Homo sapiens: one gene and its partner. The protein of the gene in region 1 purifies or fractionates together with the protein of each later gene. This does not show direct contact. Each region holds a gene or a part of one and is shown on either strand. Other genes may lie near its edges.

Evidence for each region. Proteins that work in one complex are often made in the same cells at the same time.
Region 2: the proteins of FEZF1 (region 1) and TLE4 purify together in Homo sapiens (affinity purification with mass spectrometry; one large-scale study listed by BioGRID and IntAct). This does not show direct contact.

The regions. Positions count from the first base shown.
Region 1 is NC_000007.14:122,301,761-122,306,301, reverse strand, and holds the start of FEZF1 (fez family zinc finger protein 1), read left to right. Parts: upstream 1-1,551; 5' UTR 1,552-1,864; coding exon 1,865-2,665; intron 2,666-2,990; coding exon 2,991-3,125; intron 3,126-3,370; coding exon 3,371-3,503; intron 3,504-3,946; coding exon 3,947-4,305; 3' UTR 4,306-4,541. UniProt on the Homo sapiens protein: Transcription repressor. Involved in the axonal projection and proper termination of olfactory sensory neurons (OSN). Plays a role in rostro-caudal patterning of the diencephalon and in prethalamic formation.
Region 2 is NC_000009.12:79,724,628-79,727,621, forward strand, and holds the end of TLE4 (transducin-like enhancer protein 4), read left to right. Parts: intron 1-409; coding exon 410-517; 3' UTR 518-2,255; downstream 2,256-2,994. UniProt on the Homo sapiens protein: Transcriptional corepressor that binds to a number of transcription factors. Inhibits the transcriptional activation mediated by PAX5, and by CTNNB1 and TCF family members in Wnt signaling.

The sequences.
Region 1 (4,541 bases):
CGCCACCACCTGTCTCACAGCCACGTGGGGTTAACTCACCAGGCAGATGGCACCTTGAGCTGCTGCGGTCGGCCACTCACTTCAGGGTCCAGGCCCCACCGCCCTTTGCTTGCAGCTCTGCGCGCTCCTTTGGCCTCCTCACGCCAGCTTACAGCTGCCGTGTCTTCAAACTCTGTGCAGCCCTTCCTGCGCGCCTAGCTGCGGGGTTCAGCTCTGCGTGATCGCCGGCTGGCAAGAGACTGCGCCGGGGAAGGTGCGCGCCGCAGCTTCCAGCGCGCTCCTGGACGCTCTTGCCTGGGCGGCGGGAGCCCGCACAGTCGGAGCCGCAGCCGTAGGCGTCTTCCCGGAAACCTCCACACGCTCCACCGCGCCGCCCCAGGAGTTTCGGCCGAGGTGCCACACCCGGCGGGTGTTCGGCTGGGGGGCGTTGCAGGGGAAATGGTCTCTACGCGCGCTCTTTGGGAGGCACAAGTGCACCTGTGGACACAACTCTGGCGCCGGCAAGTCTCCTTGATGCGCACAGACATCCAGGCTGCCGCCTGCGCTGCTTAGAGGAGGCTTGCAGACACCGGCAACCGGAGTGGGGATTAATACACTCTGTTTCCCTTCTCCGCTCGGCATTCAGTATTTAAAATGCTCCGGGAGAGCTCTAGCTGAGCGCAGGTACTTAAGAAAGAAATGCTCTTTCCAGACTCTCAATGGAAACTCGGAAGCGTGCGCGCGCGCGCGTCTGTGTGTATCCTGGGTGGGGTCCGATCGAGTCAAGGTTGCTTGTGGTGTGACACCCAATTATTCCTTGCAACTCCTCAACTTTGTGGATGAAAGTGCGACTTTCCCAGGCCTATTGCCGCGGGCATTGCCTTTACAAAACCACAAACACAGAACAAGCCTCCTAAGGCTTTTAATTTTCGGGGCGTTTGGGGAGGCCAGTTACCTGCCGGCGTCTTCTAAATGGTCCAGACTCGGTTCGGGCCGCGGAGACTCCGGGATTCCGGGAGCGGGCAACCCCGAGCCCTGGAGGAAGAAATAGGTCTGCGGAGGTGGCACAGATCTGACCCGGCCCAGCCCGGCCCAGCCCGGCCCACCCAGGCCCAGTGGAACCAAGCAGCGAAACCTCGGATTTCACTGCCGAGGCTTCCTAGCCGAGGCTTTCTGGAGCTTGGCGTTTGATAAATATAGCCTGGCGTTTGCCCCTGAATTAGACTCCGTTTCCTTATTTAGCCCTTGCACAATGATTTTAGATGATGTCACTTAGAGCTAAACGAGAAAATTGATCTCAGATTTGCTTGGCCTCTAAAGCCTGGTTAAGCAGATTGAGAATTAGAAAGGCAGAGGAAGCAAAAGGGGGGTGGGGATGGGGGGGTGCGGAGGGTAGTGAAGTGTGCGCGGCAGAGTGTGTGCGCAGAGGGGAGGGCGCGCCAAGCGGGTGAAAGCGCCCCCGCCTTTTCTGGGCGGGGAACCTCACTCACCAATGAAAAGTAGTTACTGACTGCAGATGAAAAAAAAAAAAGTTTTCCTGTTGACTGTTGGAAGCGAATTGAGCAATTATCTAGTTTACCTTCTCCTCTTGGAAGTTAACGATTGGCGAGATCTTGGCTGCGTTATTGACACAACACTTTCTATTGATAGAAATAAGTAGTGATTGTCCCCGAGTCATTGGTGCGCCAAGAACTCTGCGATGGGCTGGCAGGAGTCCATTGGGCTGGGCAGGCAGGTTCGGCTGGTGATGCTGGGGAGGAGGAGGAGGAGGAGGCTACTGGTGGTGATGGTGCCCGTCCCCCTCTCCGCAGGTCTGTGACAAGCAGGGAACAAGGCAACGGACGGCGCAACCCAGCCCCGGCTGACGGACGCTGGCGACTCAGACATGGACAGTAGCTGCCACAACGCGACTACCAAAATGTTAGCGACTGCTCCAGCTCGGGGCAACATGATGAGCACGTCCAAACCCTTGGCTTTCTCCATTGAACGAATCATGGCGCGCACCCCAGAGCCCAAGGCCCTGCCAGTCCCCCACTTCCTGCAGGGAGCCTTACCCAAGGGGGAACCCAAGCACTCTCTGCATCTCAACTCGTCGATCCCCTGCATGATCCCCTTCGTGCCTGTGGCCTACGACACGAGCCCCAAGGCAGGAGTGACGGGCTCCGAGCCGCGGAAGGCCAGTCTGGAGGCCCCGGCGGCGCCCGCGGCGGTGCCCTCGGCTCCCGCATTCAGCTGCAGCGACCTGCTCAACTGCGCACTGAGTCTCAAGGGCGACCTGGCCCGCGACGCGCTGCCGCTGCAGCAGTACAAGCTGGTAAGGCCGCGTGTGGTCAACCACTCTTCATTCCACGCCATGGGCGCCTTGTGCTACCTGAACCGAGGTGACGGCCCATGCCACCCGGCAGCCGGCGTGAACATCCACCCGGTGGCCTCCTACTTCCTCAGTTCCCCTTTGCACCCGCAGCCAAAAACGTATTTAGCCGAAAGGAATAAACTGGTGGTCCCGGCGGTGGAGAAATACCCTTCTGGAGTAGCTTTCAAAGACCTGTCCCAGGCTCAGCTGCAGCATTACATGAAAGAAAGCGCCCAGCTTCTGTCGGAAAAAATCGCGTTCAAAACCTCGGATTTCAGCCGAGGCTCTCCTAATGCCAAGCCCAAAGTTTTCACTTGCGAAGTGTGTGGAAAGGCAAGTACAATGCAAAACGGAGATCCTTTCCTTCCCTCCCTTCCTTCCTTCCTTCCTTCCCTCCCTCCCTCCCTCCTTCCCTCCTTCCTTCCCTCCCTCCTTCCTTCCTTCCTTCCTTCCTTCCTTCCTTCCTTCCTTCCTTCCTTCCTTCCTTCCTTCCTTCCCTCCCTCGCTCCTCCTTTCCTTCCTCCCTTTTTAGTATTTTGGGGGTAATTATTTGCATACACTTTTTGTTAAGATTCTCTTCCTCCTACCCTCTCTCTGCCCGGTTTGATTTCAAAGTTACTTGTGCGGCTAACCTGTTCTACGTGTGTTTAATTTTAAGGTCTTTAATGCGCACTATAACTTAACCCGTCACATGCCAGTGCACACAGGAGCCAGACCCTTCGTTTGCAAAGTGTGCGGAAAAGGTTTCAGGCAAGCAAGCACCCTGTGCAGGCACAAGATCATTCACACGCAGGTGTGTTCATCTGTCTCAATTTCACCTAGTTTGCTTCCGAACTGTTTGCAGAAAAACAGCCGATAAAACCTTACTCTTTAGGATAACGTTCATTTAAAAAGTGCTAGCTAAACAGGGTGAATGCCATGTATTGTTTGCTTTTGTTCTGCTTGAAAGTGTTTAAGCATTACTGTGTTTTGAGCTTGCAGAACTTCACATAATTAGAAAATATCTAAATGTCTCTGCTTTTCCTTTCTCCTGCTTAGGAAAAACCTCACAAATGTAACCAGTGTGGCAAAGCATTTAATAGAAGTTCCACTTTAAACACTCATACCCGAATACACGCGGGCTACAAACCGTTTGTGTGTGAATTCTGTGGCAAAGGGTTTCATCAAAAAGGTATGCAAACCAGGAAATGTCTCTCATGGTTAGTCTTATGAAAAGCCATACTTAATACTTTCGGGATGTTTTAGAAGACGATGTTTAAAGTGTAGTTATGTGGCACTTTTGTTGCCATTCTAACTCCCTACTCGAAGTCTGATTAGTATTAGAGAAAAGCATGATTCATAAAACAAGGGTATATGTTTTAACTGCATGCTCTCATTGTATGTAATTGGACTGATAAATGTGTATTAAAATTTAAGGAAACGGCATCACTGTTGATGCGATGCTTGAAAATAAACTTGGGGAGACAAGTGCAGGCACAGATAGTAGCCCTGCACTTGTTGTGGGACCTGTGGCGGCTCTTCTGCTTGCCTGGCGCTACCTTCCACGTGTCTGCTCCTCCCTTTTTAAGCTATTTTTTTTTTCAGAACCATATTCCTGTCATTTGTGTGTTTCAGGGAATTACAAAAACCACAAGTTGACCCACAGCGGGGAGAAGCAGTTCAAGTGCAATATCTGCAACAAGGCTTTCCACCAGGTTTACAACCTCACCTTCCACATGCACACCCACAACGACAAGAAGCCTTTCACCTGCCCCACGTGCGGCAAGGGTTTCTGCAGGAACTTTGACCTCAAGAAGCATGTCCGCAAGCTGCACGACAGCAGCCTGGGGCTGGCCCGCACGCCAGCTGGCGAACCAGGCACTGAACCGCCGCCCCCGCTACCGCAGCAGCCGCCGATGACGCTGCCTCCTCTGCAGCCGCCGCTGCCAACCCCGGGGCCCCTGCAGCCCGGGCTCCACCAGGGCCACCAGTGATCGAGGCTAAGGGTCCTCCCAGCCTCAGCCGTGCCCCCACGCTGAGGCAGCGGCAGACTAGAGCTCCTGGTCCGAGTTCGTCTGCAGACCCCAGGGCATGTTGGGCCCCACACTTCAGGGCCGACCAGAAGCCTCTGCATCCCCTGGCCTTTCGCCTCTTGCATGCACCTGCTAAATGGTTTTGTGTATTATATTCTATATAGGCACTAACAATTATGAAAAATTTGGAGGGTTTT
Region 2 (2,994 bases), on another chromosome or scaffold:
GAGCCCAGGAGTTCGAGACCAGCCTGGGCAACTTAGTGAGACCCTCTCTCTACAAAAAAAGTTTGAAAATTAGGTGTGATTGGACACATCAGTGTCGTAGTCCCAGCATCTCAGGAGACTGAGGTGGAAGGATTGCTTGAGCTCAGAAGGTCGAGGCTACAGTGAGCCATGGTCACACCACTGCACTGCAGCCTGAGTGACTGAGGGAGACCCTGTCTTATTAAAAAAAAAAAAAAAAAAAAAAAAAAAAAAAAGCAGCAGTACTGTCCATGACCACCTTTCACCTTTCCTTGACTGGGCTTTCTGTTTGGTCAAGGAGCACATTACATTTGCATTTGCTCTAAGTCCTCCATACTCATGGGATTTTCTTTCAGTATTTAACATTTTTGATTATATGTTTCTTTCCTAGTCCAAAGAATCCTCATCGGTGCTTAGCTGTGACATCTCCGTGGACGACAAATACATTGTCACTGGCTCTGGGGATAAGAAGGCCACAGTTTATGAAGTTATTTATTAAAGACAAATCTTCATGCAGACTGGACTTCTCCTCCTGGTAGCACTTTGCTCTGTCATCCTTTTTGTTCACCCCCATCCCCGCATCTAAAACCAAGGATTTCAGATACTCATTGCAGTTGTGGAGTTTAATCCCCTTTCTTAACCTCACTTCCCACTTGCTATTGAATTGTGAATAGTCATTAAAAACCTGTGATACCAAATCTTCAGCTGTCTACTTGGAAGAACATGGAATAAGCATACTTAACAGTGAAAAGAATCTTTAATTATGTATTATATCTGTAATATATTTATTTTGTTTAAAGAAGGCTTTCTAACAATGACTGACTAAATAAAGCTGTCTGCTCCTGCATTGATAATGAAGGTGCGTTGTATTTGATACCCCTCCCCCCCTTTTTTTGGCAAAGGAGGGGAAAGGAAGGTTTAAAATAATTGATTTAAAATGTCACTAAGTGTAGACTGATGACTGTATAGAGATGTGAAATGTATAATTACACATGGAAGCAATATGTTGCTGTGTTGTTATTAGGTTTTTTTTGTTTTTGTTTTCTACATCTTTTAAAGACTTTTGGAAATTTGGCTGAACAATTAGAACACAACAGGCCAACTCATACTCATTTGGATCTATTTAGACAACGTTAACCAATATATCTATAGCTTTAGATTATATTCGATAAAAGTAATTGGACTTTTTTTCTTTTTTTGACTCGTTGACAAGTGTCTTTGTAATATGTTTTTAGTTCCCTTTTTTTGTTGTATTATAGGCAGATGAACAAATTAAATTTGGCCTCAAAGAGAGAACTTACTCCCTTCTGGATATTTTTGCCACATTTCTTTGCAAAAGGAGATATATATATCTTTAGTCAGTTTTGTTGTTATGAGAAATTATGGGTTATTTTGTGGCATGCTCTTTGGGAGCTGCACAGTTATGGGGAGGACTCCCACTGCTGTGCAAGTTAAGTCTTTTACAAAACAAGGACAGCAGAGGAGGGTTTGCAGAGACCTCCCTCTGAAAAACACAAAGAATGGACTCTCTCCTGGGATGAGGACTTGCTTTCTTTACCTCCGGTTCTTTCCATGTCTTAGTTGGATGTCCCTGAAATGGACACAGGCTGTGCCATTGTGCCAGAAACATTGTGTTATCTTTTATGTTGTTGTTGTTGCTGTTAAACTATAATATGTGACTTCTTTTTTTATTATTTTTTGTTTGAATGCTTTAAAAATCTTTTAAGTCTGTGGATCTGCTGATGTACAGTGCCTTTGCTGCTATGGATCAAAATCAAAAGAACCGTGTAGATATACTTTATTGTATAAGTAGAAAATTACTTAATTTCATACTAGAAATGGATGGATGCTGCAAGTTGAAATGGACTGTCCATTGACGTTCCTAATGTGGTAGCAGAAAAAAAAAAATGGTGTCTTAAGTGCTTAGTGTTTGATGTCATTAACAGTTTCGTAAAACTCTACAGTGTAGAAAGATTTTGATACTAAACTGTGCGTTGTACATAGTTCTAATGCATTGTATTGACCACCAGTACTTCTATAATGGTAGATTGTTTGTGAATTCAGACTTTTAAGCATTAAACATAAATAACTTCTAGTATGCTTATTTTTCTAATTCTTTGTCTTGATGACATTAGTTTATTTTTTATCTTTGGCTGTGCCACTCCTATATATTAAAAATGCCTAGTTTTTTCAAGGGAGATTGTTGTTAAAGTAAAGTGGTTTTTTTTGTTGTTAAAGTAATGTGGGTTTTTTTCACTGTTGCTGTTTTTGTTTTGGTTTTGTCTTTACTTGAGAGGAGCTAGAAAAGGTAGGTGATAGAAGTTAACAGTGACCAGTTGGTGCTAAATATTTATTGAGTACCTCTTTGATTTATAAAAATACTGCTTACCAAAAGGTTATCATGTCCCTCAAACCCTTGATGCTTTAGAGCTATGCTGTTCAATATGGTTACCCTAGGCATTTGTGGCTCTTTAAATTTATTAAAGTTAAATAAAACTAGAAATCTAATTTACCAGTCACACAAACTACATTTCAAGTGTCAAGTAGCCACATGTGGCTAATGGCTACCGTATTGGACTAGACACATCAACACGGGCTTTAAGTTAGCCAATGTAAACCATTGCCAGCCATGTGGATTTGGGAAGCATTTCTAGCATAACACACTGAGGTCTTTACACCAGGCTTCTTGGGCTGCTACTGGTTGGGTGTATGAAGATTCAGTATAAAGAGGAGTTTAAATTAAGAATTCTAAAGTGCTGGGACTCAAAAATCCGACATTTTAAGGTTCTACTAAGTAGGAGGATTGGAAGCCCCACAGTAGTCTGGAGGGATCATCTATAAGAGATACTTCGGTTGCTGAGTTAAGTACAGTATTCATCAGTTGGACTGGAAGCCGCACTTCCATTGTGATACCATGTGCGTTGTTACATCAAATGATGACACACAAGTCATTGAAGGCTGGCTGAAAAATTAAAA